2 separate regions of the Homo sapiens genome follow, and region 1 is linked to region 2. Evidence: fine-mapped expression QTL. A gene starts in region 2. The other region holds a variant in brackets. All regions are shown on one strand. Distances are between the middles of the regions. Region 1 has its middle 9.8 kb from the start of GLS2. Region 2 holds the start of SPRYD4 (SPRY domain containing 4).

Evidence for each region.
Region 1: its variant is fine-mapped to the expression of SPRYD4 in whole blood (TOPMed, PIP above 0.99). The same link has a PIP of 0.9 or more in esophagus mucosa, lung and monocytes.

What each region holds. Positions count from the first base shown.
Region 1 is chr12:56,496,550-56,499,460 of GRCh38, reverse strand. No RefSeq gene overlaps it. Among named protein-coding and RNA genes, the nearest start is that of GLS2, 9.8 kb to the right of the region's middle. The variant C/T (reference allele first, on the strand shown) is at 1,596.
Region 2 is chr12:56,467,017-56,469,927 of GRCh38, reverse strand. It overlaps SPRYD4 (SPRY domain containing 4), which reads right to left and starts at 1,350. Exons shown (of 2, transcript NM_207344.4): 1 at 1,252-1,350; 2 at 1-889. The coding sequence starts at 1,336. The coding sequence ends at 351. RefSeq lists enhancers at 503-632, 1,053-1,102, 1,423-1,602, 1,613-1,682.

The sequences.
Region 1 (2,911 bases), 30 kb before region 2:
TGGTTCCCTTCCCACAAATCGGACTCAGTTAGAGTCACAGGCTCCCTTGAAGCCTGGTTCCTTTCCTATAAATCAGACTTGGGTAGAGTCACAGGCTCCCTTGAAGCCTGGTTCTTTTCCTCCTAATCGGACTCAGTTAGAGTCACAGGCTCCCTTAAAGCCTGGATCCTTTCCTACAAATCAGACTCAGTTAGAGTCACAGGCTCCCTTGAAGCCTGGTCCCTTTTCTACAAATCAGACTCGGGTAGAGTCACAGGCTCCCTTGAAGCCTGGATCCTTTCCTACAAATTGGACTCAGTTAGAGTCACAGGCTCCCTTGAAGCCTGGTTCACACTTGCCGTGGCAGCCTGGTTTTCAGGCCCATGAAAGACCTGCTCAGCAGGTAATCTGCTCTCACCCTGGCTTTCAGTTTTTCGACTCTCCTTCTATTCAAAATTCTACCTCTTTTTCTGCTCCTGGTCTGGTCGCAACTGCTGTTGCCAATACTACCATTGCCGCTCATAAGCAACAAATTACATACATCCCTGAAGATGACACTCTGCTTACGAGGGCTATAGTTCAGGCAAGGGAATATGGGGATCCCGAAGCTTGGCAATTTCCTGTAATTTTACAACCCCCAGTACCTGCCACCCCAGCAGTACAAAACCACCCACAGCCTGTTGTTGATCCTGCCCAGCAGGCGGCTGACCCCACAGCTCAACAAGATCAAGAGGCTGACAATTAAGCCCCTCAGCCTGAGAATCGGCTGCTTGGGTAAATAATCAGGCTCTGCAATTGCCTGCTCCTGGGGCACAGCCAATACCTGGCATTCCCGCTGTTCAGGCGGTAATTCAGCCTGACACCATCCATCCAGGCCAGGTTCAGCTACGCCCTGCTACATAGGAAAGTTTTTCTTTTAAATTCCTCAAAGATTTTAAGGAATCAGTGAAACAATATGGCACCAACTCTCCTTTTGTCCATTCCACATTAAAAGCCTTAGCAGAAGATAAACGTTTGGTACCCTATGATTGGGAAATTTTGGCAAAATCAGTCTTATCTAAATCCCAATATTTACAATTCAGGACTTGGTGGGTTGATGCTGTCCAGGAACGCATTCGTCTTAATCAGGGCTCTAATCCTCTTGTTAACGTTACGGCTGACCAGTTACTGGGAATGGGTCAATGGGCTGCAATCCGACACCAAACTATACTAAATGATGAGGTTATTGAACAACTGCGAAAATGTTGCTTAGATGCTTGGGACAAAATTCAAGATGATGGTAAAGTATGCCCATCTTTCACAGCCGTCAGACAGGGACAACATGAGCCCTACCCAGACTTTATTGCTCATCTTCAAGACGCAGCAGAAAAGGCTATTCCTGATAGCCACGGCCAAAGACTTGTTGTAGAACTTATGGCTTATGAACAAGCAAATCCAGATTGTCAGGCGGCTATTCGCCCCGTCAAAGGTAAAATTCCACCAGGTGGTGATATACTCACCTCCTACATTAAAGCCTGTGAAGGGGTGGGAGGAACTCTCCATACAGCAATGATTATGGCACAAGCTATGGCCTCTATTCGAATGCCTGGACAATTCTCTGGCCAATGCTTCATATG[C/T]GGCCAGAATGGACATGCAAAAAGAAATTGCCCTCGGCGTGCAGGTCGCCATCCTTTACATCACCAACAACAACAACAAAAAACTTTTCAGCAACAAGATGCCCCACCTTCTACTGTATGCCCACGATGCCAAAAGGGTCTTCACTGGGCATCTCAATGCCATTTCAGATTTGATATTGATGGCCATCCTTTACGGCCTTTTAAAAATCAGGGAAACAGGATGAGGGGCCGGCCCCAGGCCCCTCTAAACAATGGGGCATTCGTCAACTCTCAGCCCCGATGTAGGGACCAGCCCCACAGGGTCGGTAGGTCTCTCCCTGTGTGCAGCGATGAGAGAGTGTAGAAATAAAGACACAAGACAAAGAGACAAGAGAAAAGGCAGCTGGGCCCGGGGGACCACTACCACCAATGCGCGGACACCGGTAGTGGCCCCGAATGTCTGGCTGCGCTGTTATTTATTGGATACAAGGCAGAAGGGGCAGGGTAAAGAATGTGAGTCACCTCCAATGATAGGTAAGGTCACGTGGGTCACGTGTCCACTGGACAGGGGGCCCTTCCCTGCCTGGCAGCTGAGGCAGAGAGGGAGAGGAAGCAGAGAGAGAGACAGCTTACATCATTATTTCTGCATATCAGGGACTATTAGTATTTTCACTAATTTACTACTGCTATCTGGAAGGCAGAGCCAGGTGTACAGGATGGAACATGAAGGCAGACTAGGAGTGCGACTAGTGAAGCACAGCATCACAGGGAGACGGTTAGGCCTCCCGATAACTTCGGGCAAGCCTGACTGATGTCAGGCCCTCCACAAGAGGTGGAGGAGCAGAGTCTTCTCTAAACTCCCCTGGGGAAAGGGAGACCTCCCCCCCCCCCGCTTCCCGGTCTGCTAAGTAGCGGGTGTTGTTCCTTGACACCTTTGCTACCGCTGGACCACGATCCCCCTGATAACGGGCGTCTTCCCAGACGCTGGCGTCACCGCTAGACGAAGGAGCCCTCTGGTGGCCCTGTCCGGGCATAACAGAAGGCTCGCACTCTTGTCTTCTGGTCACACCTCACTATGTCCCCTCAGCTCCTATCTCTGTATGGCGTGGTTTTTCCTAGGCTATGATTATAGAGCGAGGATTATCATAATATTGGAATAAAAAGTAATTGCTACAAACTAATGATTAATGATATTCATATATAATCATATCTAAGATCTATATCTGGTATAACTATTCTTGTTTTATATTTTATTATACTGGAACAGCTCGTGTCCTCTGTCTCTTGCCTCGGTGCCTGGGTGGCTTGCCGCCCACATCAAATAAATAAATAAATAA
Region 2 (2,911 bases):
GTGATTAATAAATTCAAACAAAGCTGAATGATAAGACCCCAGGATGGAATACAGTCTGAGAAAGGCCTGGGCAAAGGGAGGCAGAGGGACTGAAGGAAGCAGGTCAAGGAAGATACACCCATGGTAGCCTAGGAAATTGGCAGTAGTTGGTGGGTGGGGAAAAGGAGGGTTTGGCTGTATGCCTAGCTTTCACAAGGTAGGGGATGAGGAAGATGATCATGATATTGCACAGAGGACCCAACACTGAATTGTGGGAGCTAGAGGTTGCTTGAGGCAAAGTAAAAAGGCTTCGGACACTTTCAAAAGGAGGCTGGCCAAAGGCGTGATTAGGGACTCCAGTAATGGACATACTAGAGGCCCTCGGGCACCTCAAGCCCTGAATGGGTCAGCAGCTCCCCATCCCAGAGAGCAAAGGCAGGCACCACTGGACCCCGGAAATCTGTCTGTAGCGTGTGAACCACAGAGACCTGGCTCACATCCACCAGGCTCAGCTTCTGGGCCTCATACTCCAGCAACAGCCCCACCTTCTCTGGCTGCCCAATACCCTCAACTGGGGCTTTCTCGTTGGCCAACATGGTGTACCACTTGCGCTGGGCATAGGTGAACACCCAGGAACGATCATCAACACCAATGCAGCTATCCCGGGACATGTCCACATCTGCCACTCCTATCCGGAACTGCTGGGAGCGCTTCACTGTCACTTCCCAGTAGTGTCTGCCACTGGTGACCGCTGTGTCTGCCAGCACCACTGCCCACTCCCGGAAGCGCTCCACATTCAAGGCCACCTTGGTGGGCTCCAATCCCACCAAGCCATATTTGACACCCGTATCATCTCTGAAGAGTGCCAGGCTGCTGTGGGCGGTTTTTTCTTCCAGTTTGAAACTGACGCCTGCGGGCAGAGCAAAAAGACGGGATAATAACAGGGGCTAGAACCCTAGGGCTGGTGATATATTCAGATATGAGGCAGGCAGCCATGATACACGAGCAACTAGGGAAGAGTCAGAATGCCAAGCGGGCAAGAGAGTCGCGAGGTCGCTTTACTACGGATAGCTCACGGAGCTGAAAAACTCGGATTGAGTAAGTCCCGGAATTTAAAGAAACCAAATGGTATCACAGGTTTGGAATCTTAAGACCAAGGCAGGTGGGGAAGGAAAAGACCCGAGAGGGTTGGAGTTGCTTCTCGGAGTGGGGTCTGGGAATAATAGACGGCAGCCATTCTGGAGGTAAAAGAGTAAAAAGAGATAATCCTACCTCTCTGGGCCTCTGTGGAGGCAACTCCCAATCGTTTGGCTCCCCAGCGGCACAAGCGCAAAGAACGTGCAAAAAGCAGCGCCATCTTGCGCCTTGGATGAACCGGGCACGCCTCCCGCTTACAGACACAGCCATCTGCCCGCCCGCTCCCCTAGCACGTGGTGCGCGAGGGGCGGCCGCGCAGTGTTATGACGTAGGCGACGCCCGGGGGCGGGCGGCCGCCAAGGTAGTGGTTTCTGTTCTGTTTCTGCCCGCGGTTAATGCTGCTTATTCAGTTTTTCTGCGTAGACGAACGCTGCTCACATTTGAACTACGTAAAACTTTTAGAGATATAGTGTAGCCAGATGCTTAGAAGTATAGATTTTAAAATTAGACAGTACTGTAATTAGCTTTGATCCCGGCTTCACTGTGTGAGTTTGGGCAACTCACTCCACTTTTCTGAGCCTTAGTGTTCTAATTTATAAAATAGAAATTATATACAGACCTTAGTAATAATTAAGTGAGAATAATCTAGGCCGGGCGCGGTGGCTCACGCCTGCAATCTCAGCACTTTGGGAGGCCGAGGCAGGCGGATCACGAGGTCAGGAGATCAAGACCATCCTGGCCAATATGGTGAAACCCCGCCTCTACCAAAAGTACAAAAATTAGCCGGGCGTGGTGGCGCGCGCCTGTAATCCCAGCTACCCGGGAGGCTGAGGCAGGAGAATCGCTTGAACCAGGGAGTGGGAGGTTGCAGTGAGCCGAGATTCTGCCACTGCACTCCAGCCTGGTGACAGAGCAAGACTCCATCTCAAAAAATAATAATAATTAATCTAGATATATATTGGCAAATAGCAACCATTGGGTAATTCACAGTTGTTTATAATTAATAGTAAATACATAAATACTGTTAATGTTGGTTTTGTATGTTCAAGGCTAGGAACGGATGGTTTAACTCAGCATTCAGTTTTCTGAACTTAACCAAGAGTAGCAATATTTTGGTTCAGGGTATGAGGTAGGAGATTATGGACAGCCTATATTGAACATTTCGATCTGCATTCCATTTTATTTTATTTTTTGAGACAGGGTCTCATTCTGTCACCCAGGCTGCATGCAGCACAGTGGCGCAAACACAGCTCACTGCAACCTTCATCTCCGAGGCACAAGCGATCTTCCTGCTTCAGCCTCCCATGTAGCTGGGACCACATGTGCACGCACCATGCCCCGTTAACTTTTTTGTAGAAACGGGGGTTTCGCTTTGTTGACCAAGTTGTTCTCGAATTCTCGGGCTCAAGCCATCCTCCCACCTTTGCCTCCCAAAGTGCTGTGATTACAGGTGTTAGCCACTATGCCAGGCCTACATTTTTTTAATCAGTCCACTTCTCAAGGTTCTGCTGGCCAGTGCAATAGCAACATACATCCCACCTCCATCCTCCTACCCCTCAAAAAAGGATTTTAGATATATATTTTTAAAATGTATATTCTGAGACGGAGTGTCACTCTATCACCCAGGCTGGAGTGCAGTGGTTTGATCTTGGCTAACTGCAGCCTCTGCCTCTGGAGTTCAAGCAATTTTCCTGTCTCAGCCTCCTGAGTAGCTGGAATTACAGATGCCCACCAACCACACCTGGCTAATTTTTTTTTGAGACTGAGTCTCACTCTGTTGCCCAGGCTGGAGTGC